7 linked regions of the Homo sapiens genome follow. The protein of the gene in region 4 purifies or fractionates together with the protein of the main gene of each other region. This does not show direct contact. Each region holds a gene or a part of one and is shown on either strand. Other genes may lie near its edges. The genes, in order: KANSL2, ZNF608, UBAP2L, YEATS2, KANSL3, SETD1B and TAF5L.

Region 1 (3,500 bases), on a different chromosome or scaffold from region 4:
CATGCGGAACACTTTAAACTTTTATTAATCTACATTCTTAATGTTTTGATATGAAATCATCACTTACCAGTCAAGACAGCTTTAAAGTGTTCAATTAACATGTATCTTTCACATATACATATATACATGTATATATACGTATATATATATACATGTATATATATATATACGTATATATATATATATATATATATATTTTTTTTTTGAGATAAGGTCTCACTCTTGTCACCCAGGATGGAGTGCAGTGGTGCAATCAATCACAGCTCACTATAACCTTTGCTTCCTGGGCTCAAGCGATCCTCCCACGTCAGCCTGCCGAGTAGCTGGGACTACAGGTGTGCACCACCCCACTTGGTTAATTTTTGTATTTTTTGTAGAGATGGGATTTCACCATGTTGTCCAGGCTTGAACCCCTGGGTTTAAGCGATGCTCCCGCCTCAGCCTCACAAAGTGCTGGAATTAAACGCATAAGCTACTGCACCTGGCAATATATTTTAATTAAAGCACTAAAGATACCAACATCAAATAATTTTTTTTTTTGAGACAGTCTTGCTCTGTCACCCAGGCTGGAGTGCAGTGGCACAACCTTGGCTCACTGCAACCTCCGCTTCCCAGGTTCAAGTGATTCTCCTGTCTCAGCCTCCCAAGTAGCTGGCATTACAGGCACCTACCACCACGCCCAGCTAATTTTTATATTTTCAGTAGAGATGGGGTTTCTCCATGTTGGTCAGGCTGGTCTTAACTCCTGACCTCAGATCGATCTTCCAGCCTCGGCCTCCCAAAGTGGTGGGATTACAGGCATGAGCCACTGTGCCCAGCCAAAATTTGTAATTGTTTAAAAAATATAGGCCTATATTGGAGCTCATATGGACCCTCAAATAACTAGTCAAAATGGGCTATACCCTGTCCTCAGCTAATTTTCTTGACAATATTCTCAAAATTCAGTACCCTAGGTTAACCCTTAATTGCCAAAGATCTGGCACGGATCCATATCAACTTGATTAAGCTTTGCTGCCAATTATAAACTAAAAGAATATCTGGCCAGGCACGGTGGCTCACACCTGTAATCCTAGCACCTTGGGAGGCCAAGGCAGGCGAATCACCTGAGGTCAGGTGTTCAAGACCAGCCTGGCCAACATGGCGAAACCCCGTCTCTACTGAAAATACGAAAATCAACCAGGTATGGTGGTGGGCGCCTATAATCCCAGCTACTCGGGAGGCTGGGGCAGGAGAATTGCTTGAACCCGGGAGGCAGAGGTTGCAGTGAGCTGAGATCGTGCCACTGCATTCCAGCCTGGGTGACAGAGCAAGACTCCATCTCAAAAAAAGAAAAAAAAAAAAAAAGAACTTCTAAAAGTTTTGCTAGTGATTAATATATGGTAGACTGTTCTCTGGCTCTGATTTATGCAATCAAAATTAAGAGATGAGGCCAGGTGTGATAGCTCACGCCTGTAATCCCAGCACTTTGGGAGGCCGAGGCAGGCAGATTGCTTGAGCCTGGGAGTTCAAGACCAGCCTGGGCTGTAACATGATAAAACCCTGTCAATACAAAAAATACAAAAGTTAGCTGGGCACGGTGGTGTATACCTGTAGTCCCAGATACTCAGGAGACTGAGGTGAAAGGATCACTTCAGCCTGGGAGTGGGAGGCTGCAGTGAGCTGAGATGGCGCCACTGCACTCCAACCTGGGTGACAGAGCAAGACCATGTCTCAAAAATAAATAAATAAATAAATAAATAAGTGAATAACTTTGAATTTTAAAAATTTTGTTTCACTCACCGTCTGATCATTACATAAATACAAAGAACAAGCTATATACCTTAAGTTTCATACTGAGTAAAAATTTTATTGAAAAGGCAAAACACATAAATTATACTAATTTTAAGTCAAAAAATTATGCTTTATTACTTTTTCGTTTTTAAGACAGAGTCTTGCTCTGTTTCCCAGGCTGCACTGAAGTGGCACAATGTTGGCTCACTGCAACCTCCGCCTCCCGGGTTCAAGCAATTCTCGTGCCTCAGCCTCCACAGTAGTTGAGATTGCAGGCGTGTGCCACCACACCTGGCTAATTTTTTTATTTTTTGTATTTTTAGTAGAGATGGGGTTTCACCATGTTTCCCAGGCTGGTCTCAAACTCCTGAGTTCAGGCATTCCACCCGACTCGGCCTCCCAAAGTGCTAGGATTACAGGCGTGAGCCACTGTGGCCAGCCTCTGCTTTATTTTTAAAAACTAGCTGTTAAGGCACTGAAATACACAGAATATACAAAATTAACTTTAGGACTGAGAGCAAGTAATTTCTGCCAAAATTTCTTCATAAATATAAACAAAAGCCAATATTACCTGTGTATAAGAGGTACTTAACTATATTCTGAAGTAAAAGTGAAAAGAAATTAAGAAAAATCAAAACATGGTTAATAAAACCAGCAAAGGGCCAGGTGTGGTGCACAAGGCCAAGGTGGGTGGATCACTTGAGGTCAGGAGTTCGAGACCAGCCTGGCCAACATGGCAAAACAGCCTCTCTACTAAAAATACAAAAATTAGCCAGGTATGGTGGCAAGCACCTATAATCCCAGCTACTCGGGAGGCTGAGGCAGGAGAATCACTTGAACCTGGTAGGCAGAGATTACAGTGAGCCGAGATCGCACCACCGCGCTCCAGCCTGGGCGACAGAACGAGACTCTGTCTCCAAAAATAAAAAATTAAATAAAATAAACAAATTAAATAAATAAATAAAAATAATATATAATAAAATAAAATTAATAAAAAATAAATTTAAAAATAAATAAAATAAAATAAAACCAGCAAATTACAGAAATGACAAAAGCTAACAGACTATCAGAAAATGTGAAAAGGCTTTAAAAATATGTAACAGTTGGCTGGGCACGGTGGCTCAAGCCTGTAATTCTAGCACTTTGGGAGACCGAGGTGGGCATACTGCCTGAGCTCTGGAGTTTGAGACCAGCCTGGGCAACATGGTGAAACCCCATCTCTACTAAAATACAAAAAAAAGAAAGAAATTAGCCGGGCACAGCGGCGTGCGCCTGTAGTCCCAGCTACTAGGGAGGCTGAGGCAGAAGAATTGCTTGAACCCAGGAGGCAAAGGTTGCAGTGAGCTGAGATCGTGCCACTGCGCTCCAGCCTGGCAACAGAGTGAGAGTCCGTCTCAAAAATAAATACATAACGGTTTCACAAGGTGACTAAGTTACATCTTCAGAAAAATGGGTTATGCCTACATTAACCTGTCTGTAACCTAAAATACTGAGGCCTTAACCTAATATAGAGTTTGTTAAAATGAAATTCACTTTTTGAATACTGAAAATGAGAAAAATAAAAATTGTTTTAAAAAATTAATTTCACTGCACCCTGTCAGAAGAGAATTTAACCAATGGTCTGGAACTGAAATGTACCTATCTGAAGCCATTACTATTAGAAGTTATTAGAAATCATTTGGTGGGGGCAGTAAGCAACCTACTAAATGAATGCCGGCTGGTTCATGTAA
Region 2 (3,500 bases), on a different chromosome or scaffold from region 4:
AAGCAAGTAACAGATGTGAAAATGAGCATCCCCAAAAGAGCCAGGTGAAATCACAAAGTACACAATGCAGTAAAGAGGAGTCAACACTCCAGTAGCTTCAGGGCTGGGCCCAGTCAAGGAAAAGACTGACAATTTCCAACACCTGCAAAAGAACAGGCGACCAAGGGCTTATATTCTTCCTCAGAAAAACCAAAGAAAAACAGCTCAAGTAGCTAGCTTCCAAACCAGTTCAAATTCCCACTTTGAGAAAAAATGAAAACAAAGACAGGAGAGAAGGGGTGGGGAGCAGAGATCTTCTGATAGAAAAGAAATTTAGCATCTGCATTTTACTGCGTTCAATCCTAAATTGCTCATTTCTCCTTTGCCTGGTTTCAATTACAGGCACACTTTTATGTATTATGAATCTCTCTCTACAGTTTCCCTGCAAAGAGAGGATGGGGAAGGAGAGAAATAAAAGGCCCTGTTCATACCTGGGAGGGGCCCAGTCGTGCTTGGTGCAGTCCAGTAGGGTTCCCACGTACGTTTTGTTCCTCCACGTGACATTGACCACTAGGACACCTGCAGGAGGCAGGGGATGAAAAAGGATCATAGTTACCACTGATTACTGTTATTTCCAGTTCACTTATTATTTTTTTCTCTTTTTTTTGCCAGCAAGTTCTATTCTCATTTGCTTTTAAAAGCTGTGGTTTGCATTCTTCCTCTTTCTGGTTTCAGTGACCTCAAGTTAAAACCCACAGGAAATAATGTGTGTTGTGCATTCGTGCGCGTGCGCATGTGGTACAAAGGAGTGAGACTGTGTGTGAGAGTGTAATCAAGATACTGCTGACAGAAGGAAATGGTTTTTGCCATGTCCTGCTGTAAAACAGCAACACTCACCTCTTAATTTTTCTATTATTACACATAATTGCTTTCGTTTGGCAAGCAGCCAATATAAACTAGCGCCAGTTACCAGTGCTTAAACCAGAGGGTGACTGAAAGGAATCGGTTTTGTTTCCAATTCAACAATATAAAATGATGGTGATTTTTATTAAGAAAAAATAATTATGCAGGTGCATAAAAATAGGCATAGACAGGAGAGTGGGGACTCAAGAGTCCAGATAGCAGACAATCAACTACGATTTCACTTCCCTAATCCTCCCCTCTTTGACTTTGTGAGACAGTAATCAGCCTGGGTACCGTATCTGTTTCAGTGTTTGGTTTTGTTTCATATTAAGGACTCCTAAAATAGCCCTCTTAAGAAAACAAATGTGCACAATAGATTTACTCTTGGGGTTATCTTTGGAGTCAACTTTGGTACGCATTTGCCTCAGAGGATTAGAAAAGAAATCTCAAAACTAACACACTCGTTTCCTGCAAGCCATTCTGCTTTTTCCAACTGCTTTTCAGACAGACAATTTAATTTAGCACTGCATCTGTGAATTACTAAACTTAAGTGTGCTTAGTATACCAAATGTCACAGAGAAAATATAATATCCTCTTTATTTCTGAGAGGACAAATGCCAAATTACAAAAATCACTTCTTTAAAGCATATTTTAATAGAACCTTGATTTTGAGACATACATAAATTATTAGGGTAAAGAAATAAAATATTTAACTGAGCCTTTGTTTTCTTTTCTGCATCTACCCCTACTCTTTCTTGGAAGCACCAGAAGACATTAGTCAAAATCTGTTTCTAGCTAGTTTGCTCACTTGCATTACCATTGCCATTGTGAATTTTACAGAAAACCTGTAGTGGGCTCCTTTACAGTAAGGGAAACCTGACAAGGTAAGACTCATTTCCTTGGGAACCTTTTAACAGCAGGTAAAATATTTCAATGGTTGGGACTCAAGTAATGGAGAACGATTTCTTTCCAAAGTCTCAAAAGGAGATTTTAAAATTGTTTCCCATATGGTCTATGTTGCTATTACTTAGGCAACAGCTGAATTATTTACTCTGTGTTAATTCAGTGTACTGTAGCAATAGGCTAGCAGGGGAAAGGCTAGGATGGAGCAAAGCAAGTATTTCCTCAAATCATAGCTGATTCCAATGAAATTCCCTCAGGAAATTTTTTTAAAACCATTGTGTATAAAATTTCCTATTGCGATGAGAATCCATGGTAATTAGGCATTTGGTCAAAATCTGCACAAGACAGAACAATTGGAGGAAAGGATTCTTTATGAACACATCCCTTCAGGAAAGGGGAGGGGGTGGGAGAGGAGGCAAAGGGGAAGACTGAGCTGGTTTTCTCATCATCTTCTCTCTGGGGCACTGTGTGTGGTGTCAAAGACCTTTGCAGCTGCTTAAAATTCTTTAGCATGTCAGCTATATTTACAGTGCAGGAATATATCTGTACTGCCAGAAGGTTACTGCATTTTAGCTTTAGATCCAATAGGCTGAATCACTGCGTTCCAGAGTCCCTGATGTAGCACAAATATATAATTAAAATTGCTTGAAAGGAAACATGAAAGAAACAACAAACCTTCCATTCTTGCAGTAATAAAATTAAAAACAGGAAAAGTCTGCACAGACACTTAACATTTGTCTGCAGTGAAAGGCTTTTGTTATTGCTTTTCCCCTAAGGGTTTCGCGTTTCCAGAGAACGCTGGCCGCGGATTGGCCGGCGCCCGCTGCGAGCACTCGCGTCTGATTGGCTGGGCCGAGGCGGCCGCCCGGAGCACAGAGGCAGCGGTCGGGTAGAGGTGAGCGTGGCGGAGGCAAAGGGACGCATCCCCCACGGCGCGCTGGCCGTGCGGGGCTAGAGGGCCGCCTGCGCTGCTCGGCTCCCTCGGTGCACGCGGGACACAGGCTCATTCGCACTAACGAGTCCGGCCGTGCAGTGAAAGCTTCGGTCTGCGTGACCGTGCTGCGCTCCCCGCGCCACGCGGCTCCACACAACACGCCGGCCCACGCAGAACCCTCAGAACGAAATTCACCGTCTCAATACAGGCTCAAGGGAAACCTGGAGTCTGAAAAAAGGAAGGGACCCAGGGCAGGCAATTAATCACTGGTTATCTGGGGCCACAGGTTGAAGCTGTCACAAAGGCTAATCTGCAGTTGCAACTTCCTCACTGTAAAATTATTCACATCTCCTGCTGCTCTTTCTGGAAGCCACACAAGCAGACCTCTTATCGAAGTACAAGTGATGCCGTTGTTATTTGCACTCGGAAGGAATCAAGTCCTGGAAAGAAAAATCCATTTTCAACCTCAAAGGGCCTAAATAAGTAACCCTTATTTTTCCAGAAGCACTCCGTATTTAAAATGCTCAAAACAAATGCTTTACACCCAAGGAGATTTTGAACAGTCTCCATCAAGCAGTGCTAATTAAATATGTGTGCTTGTGTCTATCTTTCTTTATATGTACGAGCCGCTTCACAATGCCACAGAGTGTTTAAATCTGCCCACAATTCACATCCGAATATATACAGGCACATGTTTACACAGCCAAATCTGCCACTCTATATTGGAATGAAGGCTTAAGGAATGTTTCTCATATAAACTACACAGTGTACTGTTTCTTTG
Region 3 (3,500 bases), on a different chromosome or scaffold from region 4:
CTCTTTGGAAGGGAATAAATGCAGAGTAACCTATTATTTTGAACACTCTATCATATGATTAATGTTTTCTTTTTTACTAAATGCAGCAGCTGAGATTGTATTATAAAACAAAGTATGAACTAAAGGAACTTGAATTCAGTAGAATCCTTCCTTGTTAGAAGTCTTGTAACAAAAACTATATTCTGGTTTGGGGAAGGCCCTGTGTGTTCTGTGTCTCTTTAAAGACTCAACTAAGTCATCTTGCCAGCATTAAGGTCTCAAGTTTAAAATGATTTCTTAGAAGCACTTTCTTCCAAATAAAACTTTGTGCTAGATGCTTTTGGTTTGAGACAAATTTGAGATTCCCTGTATATTAAGGTGAGTGGTGGAGGGTAATTGCCATTTTGGTTTCTTGAAAATGTGGACTAGGAGACCAAGAGAAGCACCTGTAAAAGCAGTGTGTTGGAATTATTTTCCAGAGAACAGAGATTCTGGACAAAGTCATTGGGGCTAATACGTACCCTGTTGAAGGCTGTGGTTTAAAAAAACAAAAAACCCCCACAAACACAAAACAAACCCATAGCATACTGAGAGAGATGAAACTTGAGGGACAAAGAAGAGTCTAGACTTGAACTTGTCCTTTCCCAAGCAATGGAGGTCACATGCAGCTTACATAAAAAAGGTTGTAAGGCAGGTAAGGCTGTTTTCTTAGGTGATTGAATACAGTATTTAAAATTATTTCTCTGGAGTGTAGACTAATCTCCTTCCTGGAAGGTTTTTGTTTCCAGACTTTACTGATTATCTTTCCTTCTGTCAAAGGTACTTCAGATACTTGCATCTATGTAAAAGGCTTTTGATTATTAGTTAAATGTAAAGTCTGCTTATGGGGGACTAGTAACCAAACTGCTGTAACTTCTTAAAAAAATCCATCACTTACACATGCTTTATACATTTCTTGTTACATAAAAATGGATTAACAGCCATAGCTCCTTAAGGAATTTATCAAGCTAATTATGTTGTAAGAATAAATGAATCTTATTGATTTGTTCCTTTGAAGAAGTGAAAGTGTTTGGTGGTGAAGGTGCTGATGAGAGAGTTAAAAACATATTTTGCCCACATTTAATACCTAATTTTCTTTTAAATCTTTCAGTATTCTACCTTGTAAATACTGTTATTTGTATATACTGTAAATGATGACATCGGTGGGCACTAACCGAGCCCGGGGAAACTGGGAACAACCTCAAAACCAAAACCAGACACAGCACAAGCAGCGGCCACAGGTAAATAATCCAAGGCATACGGATTCATGGATAGCGTTGCCTGCTGATACTGGTTTCCATGCAGTACAGCATCATTCTGTGCTTTGAACTGTTGGTTTAGGTTCCTTATTTTTGTTTTCTAGTCCTTGGCTCTTTTTTTACTTAGGTCCTGATAACTGTTCATGACATGCTGTAAGGCAAGATGCTTACTTTTTTGTTGTTTAATACTGTATTATGAGGCTTAGCACTTTATTATGGGTCCTGTGCTTTTTATCTTTTTTTTTTTTGTTTTGTTTTAAGATAGGAGCTCCCTTTGCCTAGGTCAAAGTGCAGTGGCACAGTCACCATTCATTTGTAGCCTCAACCTCTGGGGCTTAAGTGATCCTCCCGCCTCAGCCTCCTGAGTAGCTGGGACTACCAGTGCACACTACCATGCCAGGCTAATTTTAAAATTCTTGTAGAGATGGTAGTCTTGCTGCATTGCCCAGGCTGGTCTTGAACTCATGGGATTATAGGTGTGAGTCACTGCCCGGCTCTATAACTCTTAAGATAGCATTTCCCTTCTCTTACCTGGGCCATTTTAGCAATACCTTTCTATTTCTTAGACCTTCCACCTTGATATCTCTCTCTTTTGTTTTTGAGACGGAGTCTCGCTCTGTTGCCCAGGCTTGAGTGCAATGGCGCCACTTCGGCTCACTGCAACCTCTGCCTTCCAGGTTCAAGCAATTCTCCTGCCTCAGCTTTCTGAGTAGCTGGGATTACAGGAGTGTGCTACCATGCCCAGCTAATTTTTGTATTTTTAGTAGAGACAGGGTTTCACCGTGTTGGTCAGGCTGGTCTCGAACTCCTGCCCTCAGGTGATCCACCTGCCTCGGCCTCCCAGAGTACTGGGATTATAGGCATGAGCCGCTGTGCCCTGCCCCACCTTGATACCTCTCTAGCAAGCCTTTTCCATTCCAGATTTTATCCTTTGCTCCTCTTTTCCCCAACTTGTCTTTTATTTTCCTCTCTGGTTCCATTGAGACCTTACCTGATTATTCCTTTCCCATGAGGAGCTGGCAACTTCACTATGTTTCTTCAAAATTAAATGAAACACCTTAGAGCATTGCTCAATTTTAAGTTTTAAAGAGTAAATTAACCTCTTGGATATTAACTTTGATGTAGATATATTCTGTTTCTCATACCAGGTTGATGTTAGTTGGTATGTAATGTGAATGAATTACTTATATTTGATTATGGTCAGATAAATCGAATATGTAAGATTAGGACATCCCCCTTACGCATTTTTCTTTCATCTGTGTTTTCAAGTGGATTTCTAGTAGAATTATAATACTTAGTTGGGGCAGTAAAATTCCTAGTATCTGAACATACACTGGATATATAGAAGATGTGTTGAGTCTATTGTCAGACTTGTATTCTAAGCTCTAGGAATAAGAGGATGGCGTTGGTTATTACAGAAATAAGAATAGAGTTTACACATGGCTTTGTGACTTAATATGAATTAAGGGGCAGATGTTTCAGAGCGGTTCTGTGATTCTAAGACGGAAGTCCCTTTAACTGTGAAGATTGGTGAATGAGTTCCTTACTCTTTCTGTAACAGTTTCACTCAATTTTTTGTCATTTTACTGATTTAAGCATCTTTTTTTTTGAGGTGGAGTCTTGCTCTATCACTTAGGCTGGAGTGCAGTGCCACTATCTCAGTTCACTGCAACCTCCTCCTCCCAGATTCAAGCAATTCTCCTGCCTCAGCCTCCCGAGTAGCTGGACCTACAGGTGTGCACCACCACACCCGGCTAATTTTTGTATTTTTAGTAGAGACGGGGTTTTGCCATGTTGGCCAGGCTGGTCTCAAACTACTCACATCAGGTGATCTGTCTGCCTTGGGCTCCCAAAGTGTGGAATTACAGGCGTGAGCCACCACCCGCACCTATCCCTGATCCCCCATTAAGCGTCCTAAATGGTGCTTTATTACTTGCTCATTTGTTACAAGGAAAAGAAAATTGGGGCAGTGGAGGCTGACGAAATAGGTTCCTGTTCTCTAAACTGTTGCCTCATGATTATGCTTTCTTGATCTCATCTCAATTCCTAGGCCACTGCAGAACAAATTAGACTTGCACAGATGATTTCGGACCATAATGATGCTGACTTTGAGGAGAAGGTGAAACAAGTGAGTGTATCACTAATTTACTGTACACTATGAGAAAAGATACCAGTATTAAGGCATAATCAAATACTGTAGATGGATGCCAGGATACTTTCTAC
Region 4 (3,500 bases):
AAGTTTTATTGCCAGCAACAGAAAAAGAAACAAGCAGAACGAACAAAGGCTAAATCCTAAAACCAAAGTGGGGAGATCTAGAACGAAGGGGATTTGTACTACACAAGTCTACTGTTGAAGCTTTAGGAAGCTTTTTTTTTTTTTTTGAGATGGAGTCTCACTCTGTTGCCCAAGCTGGATTGCAGTGGCGCAATATCGGCTCACTGCAACCTCTGCCTCCCAGGTTGGAGTGATTCTCCTGCCTCAGCCTCCTAAGTAGCTGGGACTGCAGGCACCCACCACCACATCTGGCTATTTTTTATTTTATTTTATTTTATTTTTTTAGTAGAGGGAGGGTTGAACTCCTGACCTCAGGTGATCCGCCTGCCTCAGCCTCCCAAAGTGCTGGGATTACAAGCGTGAGCCACTACGCCTGGCCCCTTTAGGAACATTTTAATGAAACTGACTTTCAGTAATCCAAATACATATGATCCATTTCCTGAATTCTATTTTGAAAACTAAATACGGCAGCAGCTTCACCCCAACACCATCCACTCTTCCCAAAGACTGTTCAATGTACACTCTAAGAATATATATCCATTTTAATATTATACTGAGAAAATCATTAGGCATGCAGAAGCCCTATCAAAAAAATCAAAATCTATATTTCAATGTCAATTAAAATTTCTCCACCTATTTAAACATTACTCTTAACACTGTCACCTCCCTTTGATACAAAGAACTGAAAAAACAAAATACACCTGATCGTCTTTCCAAAGTTATGCTCATTTTGTAACAGAAGGAACGAGAAGTTATCTATTAGGTTGGTGCAAAAGTAAAAACCACAACTACTTTTGCACCAACCTCTATTAAAGGACAGACTCAGACCAAGGGAACTCTAGGAGACAGAAGATTCTGTTATGATTTTCACCAGAGTTAGTACCGACAAAAAAATGCTATGCTAATTATTCTAAGTCAGGTCTGACACACAAAACCTTTTGAATATGTTCCCATTTGCTGGCTAACATATCACTTTTTCTTTAACTCATCTGGCATCCAAAACAAAAACAGATCTTTTAAGTAAAAATAATCAAAATTTTATACTGGACCTGAATGGCGAGAAGCTGAGCGATCTGGTCATTAGGACTGACGTGATGTGGGACATTTCTAATAACATGTAAAGAGCTGAGCAAAAGACAGCTGAGCTCAAAAACACTGTCTCATTATTTCAGTCTTATATATTTCCAGGTCAAAAACACCAACTTTCCTATAAATAAAACGGCTTTAAGACTACACAATTTGCTAATATGGTCAGCCCCCAGAATCCATTCTGGCCAGTACGCTGTCTACAACCTTGCAAACTAGCACACAGAAGACTGTAGGATAAAACAGCTCCTCTAAATTATCCATGCCACTGCTTCTCTCCATTAATGCACCTGGAAAGCTGACTTTAGGTAACTTTTACCATTCCCTTTTTTTTTTTTGAGAGAGAGAGTCTTGCTGTCGCCCAGGATGGAGTGCAGTGGCGCAATCTTGGCTCACTGCAACCTCCGCCTCCCGGGTTCAAGAAATTCTCCTGTCTCAGCCTCCGAGTAGCTGTGACTACAGGCGCACACCACCACGTCTAATTTTTTTGTATTTTTAGTAGAGACGGGGTTTCACCATATTGGTCAGTCTGGTCTCGAACTCCTGACCTCAGGTGATCCACCCGCCTCAGCCTCCCAAAGTGCTGAGATTATAGGCGTGAGCTACAGCACCCGGCCACTTTTACCATTCCTTTACCCCACCGGTTCAACTTTCTTTTTCTGGAAGAATGAGGCATGTGGGATGTTTAAGGGGTTTGAGATTTTTAAGGTAATTTTTTTAATTTTTTGAGACAGTGTCTCACTATGTCGCCCAGGCTGGAGTGCAATGGCACGATCTTGGCTCACTGCAACCTCTGCCTCCCGTGTTCAAGTGATTCTCCAGCCACAGCCTCCCAAGTAGCTGGGGTTACAGGCACGCACCACCACACCCGGCTCATTTTTGTATTTTTAGTAGAGACAGGGTTTCTCCATGTTGGCCAGGCTGGTCTCGAACGCTTGACCTCAAATGATCCACCCGCCTTGGCCTCCCAAAGTGCTGGGACTACAGGTATGAGCCACCGCGGCTGGCCTGATGCAGATTGTTTCCATATCATCTGTTCTGTAGTAGTTAGGGGGAAAAAAAGCTTTCGAAGGCTGGAGTTCACTTCATGGATGAGTCGGAATTTGATTCTTGAAGGATGAAGAGCATTTCGGTAAGCGGAGAAGGTAGAGGTGAAATATGAGCCCATTGGAAAGTAACTGTGAGATGTTCAGGCATGTGAACTTTGATGACTGCAGACATGGAGAAGTAGAACTAGTTCTAGGCAAGGGCTGTTTATCCTGCTTGTCTGAGGAGTGAGCTGTGGGGAACCTGTTAAGTGGTTGTAATGAAAGCTGAGGGTGAGGAGAATGCAGTGGGGAGGGGCTTGAACTTTACCTGCAGTGCTTCTACTGGCGATTGTTATGTATTTTGTTTTTAAGTTTTAATTTATTTGAGAGTGTGGATATACTTTTTTAATTGAAATATAATTCACTTAACTTAAAAGGTACTGTTTTAGGCCAGGCACAGTGGCTCATGTGCCTGTAATCCCAGCACTTTGGGAGGCCAAAGCAGGAGGATTGCTTGAACCCAGGAGTTTAAGACCGGCCTGGACAACATAGGGAGACCTTGTCTCTACTGAAAAAGAAAAAGAAAAAAATTAGCTGGGCATGGTGGTGTGTACCTGTAGTCCCACCTACTTGGTAGGCTGAGGTGGGAGGCTCGCTTGAGCCCAGGAGTTCAAGGCTGCAATGACCTACGGCTGCATCACTGCACTCCAGCCTGGGCGACAGAGACAGACCCTGTCTCAAAAAATATATATATTGACCGGCCGGGCGCGGTGGCTCAAGCCTGTAATCCCAGCACTGGGAGGCCAAGGCAGGCAGATCACGACGTCAGGAGATCGAGATCATCCTGGCTAACATGGTGAAACCCCGTCTCTAATAAAAATACAAAGCAAAAAAACTTAGCCAGGCGAGGTGGTGGGTGCCTGTAGTCCCACCTACCCAGGAGGCTGAGGCAGGAAAAGGCGTGAACCCGGGAGGCAGAGCTTGCAGAGAGCTGAGATTGCGCCACTGCACTCCAGCCTGGGCGACAGAGCGAGACTCCTTCTCAAAAAAAAAAAAAATTTATATATATATACACACACACACACACACACATATATATATACACACACCAGTTAAAAGAGTGCAATTCAGTGGATTTCAGTATATTCACAAAGTTGCACAAAAATCACCACTATCTAATTCCATAATGTTTTCATCACTCCAAAAAGCAACCACTTACCTCTTAATTGTCACTCTCAATTCTCCTCTCCCTTCATCCCCCTGGCAACTACTTTTTGTGTGGATAAACTTGCCTGTTTCTGGACATTTCGTATAAATAGAATCATACAGCACGTGGCTTTTTGTATC
Region 5 (3,500 bases), on a different chromosome or scaffold from region 4:
ACCCCAGTGTCTCTTATGCTTTGCAGTTATATCTCTCCTTATAAATTAAGAAACTCAGCCAAGTGCAGTGGCTCACACCTATAATCCTAGCACTTTGGGAGGCAAAGGTGGGCAGACCACTTGAGCCAGGAGTTTGAGACCAGCCTAGGCAACATGGTGAAACCCAATCTCTACAAAAACTACAAAAATTAAGAAATGGTGACGTACTCCTGTAGTCCCAGCTACTTGGGAGGTTAAGGTTCCCACCCGGGAGAATCACCTGAGTCCTGGAGGTCAAGGCTTGTAGTGAGCTGAGATCGTGCCACTGCACTGCAGTCTGGGTGACAGAGTGAGACCCTGTCTCAAAAAAAAGAAAAAAGAAACAAACTGGTATTTATAGTATTATTAAGTCTCTAATGACTTTGATAAGTATGAATTGTCCACAAAAACCTCTTAATCATAACCATGGATAAACTGACAAAAAAAAAAAAAATCACACAGTTCTCCTATGTACTTTCTGAAATTGCAAAGGACAAGGTAGTAGAAAATACCACAAAGGGATACATAACCATACCAGGCCACCTTGTTCAGCCACCACTAACTGGTCTTAATCTCTTCTTACTGCCCTTAATTAAGGCAGAGGGTATGGTAGTTGAGAACACTGGGTTCTGGAGTCAGGCTGCTTGGTTTGAACAAAATCCTTCTCCATCACTTCCTAATTAAGGTTTCTTAAACACCCTGAGCTCAGTTTCTTCATCCTGTTGAGCAGAGATGAAGGGGGGATATACCTCCAAGAGTCATTGGGAGGATTAAGAGACAATGCATTTGAAGAGACATTGATACAATGTCTGGCACCTAGAAAGCACTCAACAAACGGTAGCTCCTTTTTGTTATTACCATCGTCGTTATTTTTTATTATTAACTGTAAAAATAGTGATAAATCCTTTTGCTGAATATACTGACTCTAGCAATATTCCAGTAGTTGATCTTCATTCGTAGCAGTTTTCTTCTTTATCTGAAGCTCAAAAGAGCTTTTTTTTCTTTTTTTGAGATGGTGTTTCACTCTTGGTGCCCAGACTGGAGTGCAATGGCACGATCTCGGCTCACCACAACCTCCGCCTCCCAGGTTCAAGTGATTCTCCTGCCTCAGCCTCCCGAGTAGCTGGGATTACAGGCATGCGCCACCACACCCAGCTAATTTTGTATTTTTAGCAGAGACAGAGTTTCTCCATGTTGGTCAGGCTGGTCTTGAACTCCCGACCTCAGGTGATCCACCCGCCTCAACCTCCCAAAGTACTGGGATTACAGGCGTGAGAAAAGAGCTTCTTAAGGCACTAAATTAATTCCAATGCAAGACCCCAACCAACTTCTTCACAAGCTTTTTCAACCAAGGTGCAGAACTGCTCCTCCCTCAACAGCTGCTGTTTTGATCACACAAGCACACCTGTTCAATCTCATTCCCAACTTCCAACCAGCTTCAGAAGTCATGTCAATCACCTCAAACTTTCTACCCCTCTTTCTCTCTATTATAAAATAAGGGTTCTCCAAAATTATGGAAAGTTACCACCTACCAACTCCTGATATAAGAAGTAACATTTCCTTATATATATAGTAGATATATGGATACACAGACAAAAAGCCATCAACAAAATATAAGTTGAAACCACAATGAGATGCCACTTTACACGCAGTAGAATGGTTATAATTTTTTTAAAAAAGAAGAAAATCAGTAAGTGTTGGCAAGGATATGGAGAAACTAGAACTCTCATACACTGCTGGTAGGAATGTAAAATGGTACAGCCACTTTGGAAAACAGTCTGGCAATTCCTCAAAGGTTAAATACAGAGTTATCATATGACCCAACAAGTCCACTCCCAGGTATATAACTAAGAGAATTAAAAACTTAGATCCACACAAAAACTTGTATGCAAATGTTCATAATAGCATTATTCACAATTGCCAAAAAATGAAAACAATCTAAATATCTATCAACTGATTAATGAATAAATAAAATGTGGGCTATCCATACAATGTAATGTCATTTGGCAATAAAAAGCATGAAGTGCTGATACACGCAACCACATGGATAAACCTTGAAAACATCATGCTGGGTGAAAGAAGCCAGTAGGAAAAGACCACATATTGCATGATTCCATTTATATGAAATGTCCAGAATAGGCAAATCTATAAAGACAAAAGTCAATTAGTGCTTCCTAGGGACCAGAGAAGCTGGGAGGAAACGGGAAGTAACTGTTTATGGGTAAGAGGTTTCTTTTTAGGATGATGAAAATGTTTATCAAATTGATAGTGGTGATGAATATACAACTCTGACTATACTAAAAACCAATGACTGTACATATTAAATAGCTGAATTGTATGGTATGTAAATAATATCCCCAAAAAGCTGTTATGTAATTAGGTAAATGTTTACCAAATGAACAGGGACAAATAACCAGGAGAGGAGTGCTGAGTCCCCTGGGGGCAGTAGAAAGCTTGGGAACAAAACTAGCCAGTATACTCGTGAAAATAGGCTTCAGTGTGCCCTCCATAGCCTGCAAATCTATTTTTAAAAGCCACTCAAACATCTGTTAGCTTTTCATGTGACTTCACAACTTCCATCATCCTAGTTATAAACCATTTAAACACAATATCTTACAAATGTACATTTCATTTTTTTGCAGTTTGGGTAACCCCTATATCATAACTTATACAACAGAAGCTACTACAGAGCTAGTCATATGTATCAAATTTAATTCACTTATTTATTCAACAAACATTATATGCCTACTGTGTGCCAGACAACGTCCTAGTGTGAAGTATGCAAAGATGGCTGAGATGTAAGCCCTACTCTCAAGGAGCTCACACACAGCATGGTGAACTGAGAGTTATAATGTGAGACTTTGGAGAACACTCTGACTTGTGTTGCTGCAAATGAAATAAGGTCCTAATAAGTGTTATTTCAATGAAGATGATACAAAATAATTACAGGGCAGTGATCATCCTCCTGATGAGCAGCCTACCTGTTGACATGCTCCTCCCAGTCCTCTGGTGGAGGAGGGGCATCTGCATCAGTCCTGGCAAAGATGACATGCCGTTCACACTCATTCATCACGCTGCGTGCCTTCTGATTGTCATAGAGTGGCATAGGCGTTGATGTGACCGTCTCCACATCTATTGGGACGTCTGATTCACTGTAAACAGGTGAGGAAATAGGACCGGGCCACACATACTTCACAGGTATTTAACAATCATCTGGTTGACAAAAAATGTATCTTTAATACAGTCAGCTTTAAATTACGCATAAGCACATTATATTCACAAGAAAATTTTGATCCAAAGTCATCTTTCCCACACTTGTCTAGATCTCTGCCCTCTCAGACATGATGGTATGTACTGGAAGAACACAAAGTCATTTTTTCAATGAGTCTATATAAAAAATGATAAACATCTATTTTTTTTTTAAGATAAATATGGGCCAGGTGCACTGGCTCACACCTGTAATACCACCACTTTGGGAAGCC
Region 6 (3,500 bases), on a different chromosome or scaffold from region 4:
CTTGCAGAACCCACGTATAGGCGATCGCCCTCCATATACAGTGGGTTTCGCATCCCACCGGTCTTTTCCGTCCATATTTGGTTGAAAACTGCATGTCCGTGGGCCCTAGCCATGTGTTCAATGTACAGGGGCAGCTGTAATCCTTTCCTGAAGGACTTATTAAAGGTAGGTGCTAGGACCGGGCATGGTGGCTCACGCCTGTAATCCCAGCACTTTGGGAGGCCGAGGTGGGTGGATCATGAGGTCAGGAGATCGAGACCATCCTGGCTAACGCGGAGAAACCCCATCTCTACTAAAAATACAAAAAATTAGTCGGGTGTGGTGGCGAGTGCCTGTAGTCCCAGCTACTCTGGAGGCTGAGGCAGGAGAATGGCGTGAACCTGGGAGGCGGAGCTTGCGGTGAGCCGAGATCGTGCCACTGCACTCCAGCCTGGGTGACAGAGCGGGACTATGTCTCAAAAAAAATAAAAATAAAAATAAAAAAAGAGGTAGGTGCTAACCACATGCAGCTATCTATGTAAGCCAAAATAAATTGAACACTATTATAAATTCAGTTCCACTGTGCCACTGGCCACGTTTCAAGAGTTTGGTAGCAACATTGTGTCTGAAGGCTACAGTGCTGGACAGCACAGCCTGAGAACGCTGCCATCACTGTGGAAAGTTCTACTGGCCATGCAGTTAGAGTTCTCATATGCTCTGTGCAGCAGCATCACGATGCCGGAGGGGGCAATGCCTGCAGCCCTCACCTGGCCCAGCACCCCAGGGCCTACCCCACCGACTTGTCACTCAAGTGACCATGGACACCCATCCTCCTTTTGGGGAGCATCTCATGGGACTGATGGTCCAAGGACCAAGCCACCAGGGAAACGCTGGCAGTGAGGACTGAAAAATAGCAGTCGTTCCCCTTTGGGTTGATCCATGCAGTGCCAGGCTCAGTGCTGGCACCCAACACCTCATCTCGCTCGAGGGAGGCACAACCGGCTGATCTCGTTTTACACGGGAAACTGAGGCTGGGGACGGTCAGCGATCTACCCCAGGAAGCCCGGGCTGATTCTGACAGTGAGGACTTCCTGCCTCCCTCCCACCACCCTCCCAGGGGGTTGCAGGTGTTACCTGGAGCTCGCTCAGGGGACAATGGGGGTCGAGCCTCCACCTCCTTGGCAGGGGGCTCTGGAGACAGCAACATGGCCCCTTCCTGGCTCAGGCCTGGTTCCTCAGGCGGCTCCCTGGAGTCCGCTGGCTCTTCAACACCCACAGGCAAGGGGGGCTCGTCCAGCATGGAGGGCCGCTCCTCAGGGGCCACAGCCTCAGTCTCGATGTCCACCTCCTCTTCCATGCCCAACGAGTCCACTGCAGGTGCCCCCGGGGCCAGAGCCGCTTCCTCCCCGTCCTGCTCAAAGTCCTCAGGGCCTGCAGAAGCCATGCTTTCCTCGGCCACCATCTCCTCCTCCTCCTCTTCTTCCTCCTCTTCCCTGGCCACTACCTCCTCCTCATCCTCCGAGGATGAGGGCGAGGACTCGGAGCTTGACTCAAACTCAGAAGACTCGGAACTCTCACTGGACGACGTGGCTTCGGCCTTGGAGGTTACAATGCTCACTGTCTCCTCTGGATGGGGGACACAGACGAGGGGCTGCCTGAGGACCCGCTGTGCCCCAGCCCCCACCAGACCCCTCACCAATGGCCTCAAACTGGTGGCACCCAGGCTGAACACGGCCCTCAGATATGTGTGTGGGGCATGTGTTCACTAGGAGTCTTTTTTTTCTTTTTTTTGAGTTTTGCTCTTGTTGCCCAGACTGGAGTGCAGTGGCACGATCTCGGCTCACTGCAACCTCCACTTCCTGGGTTCAAGCGATTCTCCTGCCTCAGCCTCCCAAGTAGCTGGGATTACAGGCATGCACCACCACGCCCGGCTAATTTTGTACTTTTAGTAGAGACAGGGTTTCACCATGTTAGCCAGGCTGGTTTCAAACTCCTGACCTCAGGTGATCCACTTGCCTCAGCCTCCCAAAGTGCTGGGATTAAAGGAGTGAGCCACCACACCCGGCCGCTAGTAGTCGCTTTTAAAAACTGAGGTAAAATTAACATAACAGAAAACTGCTCACTTTTTTTTTTTTTTTTTGAGACGGAGTCTCGCTCTGTCGCCCAGGGTGGAGTGCAGTGGGGCGATCCCGGCTCACTGCAAGCTCCGCCTCCTGGGTTCACGCCATTCTCCTGCCTCAGCCTCCTGAGTAGCTAGGACTACAGGCACCTGCCACCATGCCCGGCTAATTTTTTGTATTTTTATTAGAGACGGGGTTTCACCGTGTTAGCCAGGATGGTCTCGATCTGTTGACCTCGTGATCCACTTGCCTTGGCCTCCCAAAGTGCTGGGATTACAGGCGTGAGCCACTGCGCCCAGCCAAAAACTGCTCACTTTGTAAAAAAAATTTTATTTATTATTTTTTTTGAGGTGGAGTGTCACTCTGTCACCCAGGCTGGAGTGCAGTGGCATGATCTCAGCTCACTGCAACCTCTGCCTCCTGGATTCAAGCAATTCTCCTGCCTCAGCCTCCCAAGTAGCTGGGATTACAGGTGCCCACCACCACGCCTGGCTATTTTTTGCATTTTTAGTAGAGACGGGGTTTCACCATGTTGGCCAGGCTGGTCTCGAACTCCTAACCTCAGGTGATCCACTCGCCTAGGCCTCTCAAAGTGCTGGGATTACAGGTGTAAGCCACTGCGTCCGGCCAACTGCTCGTTACAAAGTGATAATTCCAGCAGCATTTAGTACATTTGTAATGTTGCACAACCACCACCTCGATCTGGTCCCTAAGTATTTTTATCAGTTGAAAAGGAAGCCATGTAGGCTGAGCAAGCCCCCCTGAACACCGGGCTCCCCAGCCCTAAGGACCACAGACCTGCTTTCTATTTCTATGGACATGCCATTATGTTCACGGCACTCCCTGAAGATGGAACCGTACGCCACCCTGTGTGTGTGTTTTAACAAGGTAACGTCTCAAAAGCACAACATTTTGGCTCAGAAGTATTTCTGACAATTGCTCAGGCTCTGCCCCGGGGAAAGAGGGACTCCGGGAGGGCCAGGCAGCCACGGCCTCCCTGCTCACCTTCATCCGAGTCCCCTTCGTCCTTCTCACTCGCCTCTGACAGGGCTGTGTCCTCGTCATCGTTCTCAGACTCGTCCCGGTCATCACTGTCGTCATCGTCGTCATCCTGGGGGAGAAGGAAGAGTGGGGACAGGTGAGCCGAAGGGTCTGGCCCTCGTCGCCTGGCCCGGCCCCCTGAGGCTTCCTGGCCTGCTAGGCACCTTATCTGATGTGGATGAGGTTGAGGAGGAGGAGAGCTGGCTCCTGGGGACTTCCTCCTCCTCCTCCTCCTCCGCCTCCTCTTCCTCCTCGGTGCTCTCCTGTTCCTCCTCCTTGTCGGAGGCCGAGGACGAGGGTGAGGTGGTTGAGGACCCCGAGGATGATGACGCGGATGAGGACGAGGACGCCGACAATGAC
Region 7 (3,500 bases), on a different chromosome or scaffold from region 4:
CCTGCCTTAGACTCCCGAGTAGCTGGGATTACAGGCCCACGCTACCACACTTGGCTAATTATTAAATTTTTAGTAGAGATGGGGTTTCACCATGTTGGCCAGGCTGGTCTCGAACTCCTGACCTCAAGTGACTTGCCTGCCTTGGCCTCTCAAAGTGCTGGGATTACAGGTGCGAACCACCGTGCCTGCTCTTCCATTCTTTTTTAAGATGTAAAATTCCACCTTTTCCGGAAGTCTATTTATTTATTTATATTTTTTTTTTTAGTAGAGAAGGGGTTTTGCTATGTTGTCCAGGGTGGTCTCAAACTCCTGGGCTTAAGCAATTCTCCTTCCTTAGTCTCCCAAATTGTTGGGATTACAGGCATGAGCTACCATGCCTGGTCTTATTTTTCTTTAAACATAAAAAAATTATTTGTATCTAATTTTCGTCCATCTGCAGTTTCTTTTAGTGTATGTGTGGTGAATAACCAAACAAATGTTTTGCCCAGTGACTGTAGCTAACACACTGTCCCAATACCATTTGCAAGTAATTATTTCCTTCTAAACTGATTTGTGGGAGCCCTTTAAAAATATACTCTGAAGACCTACTTTTCAATTCCCTACAAGTCATACAACAGAGCAAACTGTGAAGGCTAGAGACATACTCACAAGTATATATACATGTAAATATAAAATGTTAGGACATTATATATATATTAAACTATATGCCCAGAAAGATTACATTATCTGTGCATTTTATTTCTAGGTTGCCAAAGAGTTCAAAATATTTGTTACAAAGAAGGGGTACTAGGTGTGTGATTGTTAAAAAGAAGGAACACTATGGTTGTGAATCAGTGACATAATGAAACACAATAATAAATTTCCAAATACTGAACTCTCTTCTCACTATGAAATTTACCTTGCTTGGGTATGGTGTATTATTCTCTCACTGTATTGATGACTTAGGTTACTTTTTAATTAAGCTGTTTTTTTAAATTGCTAATACAGGGATTCTGATACTCTGAGAGTGGGGTCCCTGCTCCCATTCTCTGTGGCCACTGATCAGCACTGCTCTATCAGTGATCCTCCAACCTGGCTATACATAAGAATCCCATGAGTGTGTGGATATGTATATAAATAATTTCAGCCCTGCAGATTCTGGTTGTGTTATATTTAGAGTAAAAAAGTTAAATGCACACGGAGGCTGTGACAGTACTGTCCTTTCCCGTGTGGCCCAAAGTCAAGACGAGTCAATCCAACCAGTGCCTCTTCCTATCACTTGCTACAGCTGCTTTTCATCTAACTTCAAGATCTCCTACTCTGCGGGCTTTCCCAAAGCAGCCCAATTCCCTACTCTAGCTGAGACTGAAATCTTTCCGGCTTCCACACTGCCGATCTTTTGCTGACTTGGGAATGCATGCAAATATTGATGCACATCCGTGAGCATTCCAGGCAGATGGGCCTCGATCTCTTAGATCACCTCTGACAGGAAAAAACTCTGCATGTGAAAGACATGTGAATGACTGATCTGGAGAACAGGCTCTGCAATGACACAGTGTCCTCAAGGTGCGACAATATACCTATGTGTCTGAGGAGGAAGGGAAAAGATGTGAAGTTAGGAAAGAGTAAACAGAACGGAGTAAGAATGAATGATAGTCAACACTGACCATATTTAAGATTGCTAGAAACTAGTCTGTAATACTGATTCTAACAAATATGCTTAAATTAGCTGCCCCAAATAGCAATTTCTCTGAGTCCAAACTACCATTTATGATAAGGGCGCTTCCCTGAGGGTGGGTGGTGAATCAACTGTATGGCCATGGATCTTAAGGGCAGGAATTCTGGCAATGACTCTCTTGCATAACCACGCTAAACTCAAATACTAGAGACACGACCCAATCAACTCAGCTGGGTTTTATTCCAATGTACATATATTTCAAGTGACATGGATAATTAATGAACCTGAGATAAATCGGTCCCCTCCACCCAGACTGATTTCCAGAGTACTAATATCCAAAAAGGGACAAGTGAAGAAAAAAAACTCTCCTTAAACTAGACCTAAGTCTCTGGAGAGACTCATACATGAGACGAACAGTGCAGTTTCGTTACCTGCCTAGCTTTTCCTATAATTATAAAATCTTTCAAACTGAAATTGGATTTAAATATAATTATACTCTTTGTTAACATTTCAGAATTTCTCATCATTTTCAATTTATATAAAATACTTAACTTTCAGAGGTAAAAACAGATGTCAAATACTCTGCTCTTCATATCACATTATTGATATTTCTGGAAATCAAAAATTTCTGGAGGATTTTGACACAATGTATATCTATTCTCATGTATCAACAGTTGCCAGATTGGTATTTCTGGAAATCAAAAATTTCTGGAGGATTTTGACACAATGTATATCTATTCTCATGTATCAACAGTTGCCAGATACTTCAACCAAGTTGCTATATAAAATCCCACATGATCATTTCAATGTAACAACTCTGCAGGGAAAACCACAGCCACACTTAACATTCAACTACAGAAACATGGGGAGGTGGAGATACATGGAACCCAGGCATCCTCTTAAGATGCTGTCAGTGTGGAACTCTAGTCTGGTCAATCCCTTCAGTGGTTACACGCTGCATCCTATCCCTCCACCCCCACCCCCGTTAGGCTCTAATGTACACGGTCGGTAGAGGAGGGCTGGGAGGCACCCTCATCCACCATATCACAGGTTAAAGTACTACACAGTTCCACGAAATGCCAAAAGAGTACTACCTGGCTCCCCCATCCCTCCCCCTGCCCCAATAAGGTGGCAGTTTTGAGTAGGGGTGAGTTCAAGATAAATTCAGGCAAACTCACTACACAATCCTCAAATCAGCTCTTCAACTGAGACTTCTGACTGTTGGCTTTTGAGTAATTGTATCTTTTTTCCAATGGCAAATTTATGTTTATAACAGAAGAAAAAAATTATTTTTTTGCATTTTTTTGTAAAGTGTCTACTAGGTAACTCAAGTTATTAGTTCTCTTCACTCACAGCAACTAAATGGTTGTAACATCAAAAGATCAGTCTAAGTAGGACCTAAAGCCCTAGCTTTGCATTAATCATCATGATAAAGTGTATTCAATAAGCTTTGTGAAAATATAAATCACAACTGAAAAATAAATGAGCCATACTACTTTCAGTTTCAGTCATACCTCATATAATTTAAAAATTATGATAGCCTTTCATATTCAATCTTTGCTCAGACTGACATAAATACACTTGAACTAGAAGCTGTGTTTTTTCCCATGGTGTCCTAAGAAATAAAATGGCACATGGATAAGGCCGTAGCTGGGCTCAGGACGCAGTGAAGAATGTGGCGTTTTGGTGGGGATGGCAGCAGTGGTAGAAAGTAGGTGGAAATCACGAAATCCAGCAAACAGATGTCATGAGAAGTAGATTTTCTCCAACATCAGCTGGGACCTCCATGATGTTCCAGAAGTCTTGTTTCATCAACTACTTACCCTACAGCCTTCCACCTACG

Evidence for each region.
Region 1: the proteins of YEATS2 (region 4) and KANSL2 purify together in Homo sapiens (affinity purification with mass spectrometry, with the first as the bait; one large-scale study listed by BioGRID). This does not show direct contact.
Region 2: the proteins of YEATS2 (region 4) and ZNF608 purify together in Homo sapiens (affinity purification with mass spectrometry, with the first as the bait; one large-scale study listed by BioGRID). This does not show direct contact.
Region 3: the proteins of YEATS2 (region 4) and UBAP2L purify together in Homo sapiens (affinity purification with western blotting; one study listed by BioGRID). This does not show direct contact.
Region 5: the proteins of YEATS2 (region 4) and KANSL3 purify together in Homo sapiens (affinity purification with mass spectrometry, with the first as the bait; one large-scale study listed by BioGRID). This does not show direct contact.
Region 6: the proteins of YEATS2 (region 4) and SETD1B purify together in Homo sapiens (affinity purification with mass spectrometry, with the first as the bait; one large-scale study listed by BioGRID). This does not show direct contact.
Region 7: the proteins of YEATS2 (region 4) and TAF5L purify together in Homo sapiens (affinity purification with mass spectrometry, with the first as the bait; one large-scale study listed by BioGRID). This does not show direct contact.

Annotation. Positions count from the first base shown.
Region 1 is NC_000012.12:48,672,239-48,675,738, forward strand, and holds part of KANSL2 (KAT8 regulatory NSL complex subunit 2), read right to left. Parts: intron 1-3,500. UniProt on the Homo sapiens protein: Non-catalytic component of the NSL histone acetyltransferase complex, a multiprotein complex that mediates histone H4 acetylation at 'Lys-5'- and 'Lys-8' (H4K5ac and H4K8ac) at transcription start sites and promotes transcription initiation.
Region 2 is NC_000005.10:124,649,140-124,652,639, forward strand, and holds part of ZNF608 (zinc finger protein 608), read right to left. Parts: intron 3,160-3,500; exon of another isoform or gene 2,468-3,159; coding exon of another isoform or gene 2,461-2,467; intron 559-2,460; coding exon 471-558; intron 1-470. UniProt on the Homo sapiens protein: Transcription factor, which represses ZNF609 transcription.
Region 3 is NC_000001.11:154,223,955-154,227,454, forward strand, and holds part of UBAP2L (ubiquitin-associated protein 2-like), read left to right. Parts: intron 1-1,129; 5' UTR 1,130-1,169; coding exon 1,170-1,259; intron 1,260-3,327; coding exon 3,328-3,405; intron 3,406-3,500. UniProt on the Homo sapiens protein: Recruits the ubiquitination machinery to RNA polymerase II for polyubiquitination, removal and degradation, when the transcription-coupled nucleotide excision repair (TC-NER) machinery fails to resolve DNA damage.
Region 4 is NC_000003.12:183,700,797-183,704,296, reverse strand, and holds part of YEATS2 (YEATS domain-containing protein 2), read right to left. Parts: intron 1-3,500. UniProt on the Homo sapiens protein: Chromatin reader component of the ATAC complex, a complex with histone acetyltransferase activity on histones H3 and H4. YEATS2 specifically recognizes and binds histone H3 crotonylated at 'Lys-27' (H3K27cr).
Region 5 is NC_000002.12:96,628,313-96,631,812, forward strand, and holds part of KANSL3 (KAT8 regulatory NSL complex subunit 3), read right to left. Parts: intron 3,232-3,500; exon of another isoform or gene 3,171-3,231; coding exon 3,000-3,170; intron 1-2,999. UniProt on the Homo sapiens protein: Non-catalytic component of the NSL histone acetyltransferase complex, a multiprotein complex that mediates histone H4 acetylation at 'Lys-5'- and 'Lys-8' (H4K5ac and H4K8ac) at transcription start sites and promotes transcription initiation.
Region 6 is NC_000012.12:121,817,509-121,821,008, reverse strand, and holds part of SETD1B (histone-lysine N-methyltransferase SETD1B), read right to left. Parts: coding exon 3,305-3,500; intron 3,211-3,304; coding exon 3,105-3,210; intron 1,606-3,104; coding exon 1,114-1,605; intron 1-1,113. UniProt on the Homo sapiens protein: Histone methyltransferase that catalyzes methyl group transfer from S-adenosyl-L-methionine to the epsilon-amino group of 'Lys-4' of histone H3 (H3K4) via a non-processive mechanism.
Region 7 is NC_000001.11:229,616,123-229,619,622, forward strand, and holds part of TAF5L (TAF5-like RNA polymerase II p300/CBP-associated factor-associated factor 65 kDa subunit 5L), read right to left. Parts: intron 1-3,500. UniProt on the Homo sapiens protein: Functions as a component of the PCAF complex. The PCAF complex is capable of efficiently acetylating histones in a nucleosomal context. The PCAF complex could be considered as the human version of the yeast SAGA complex.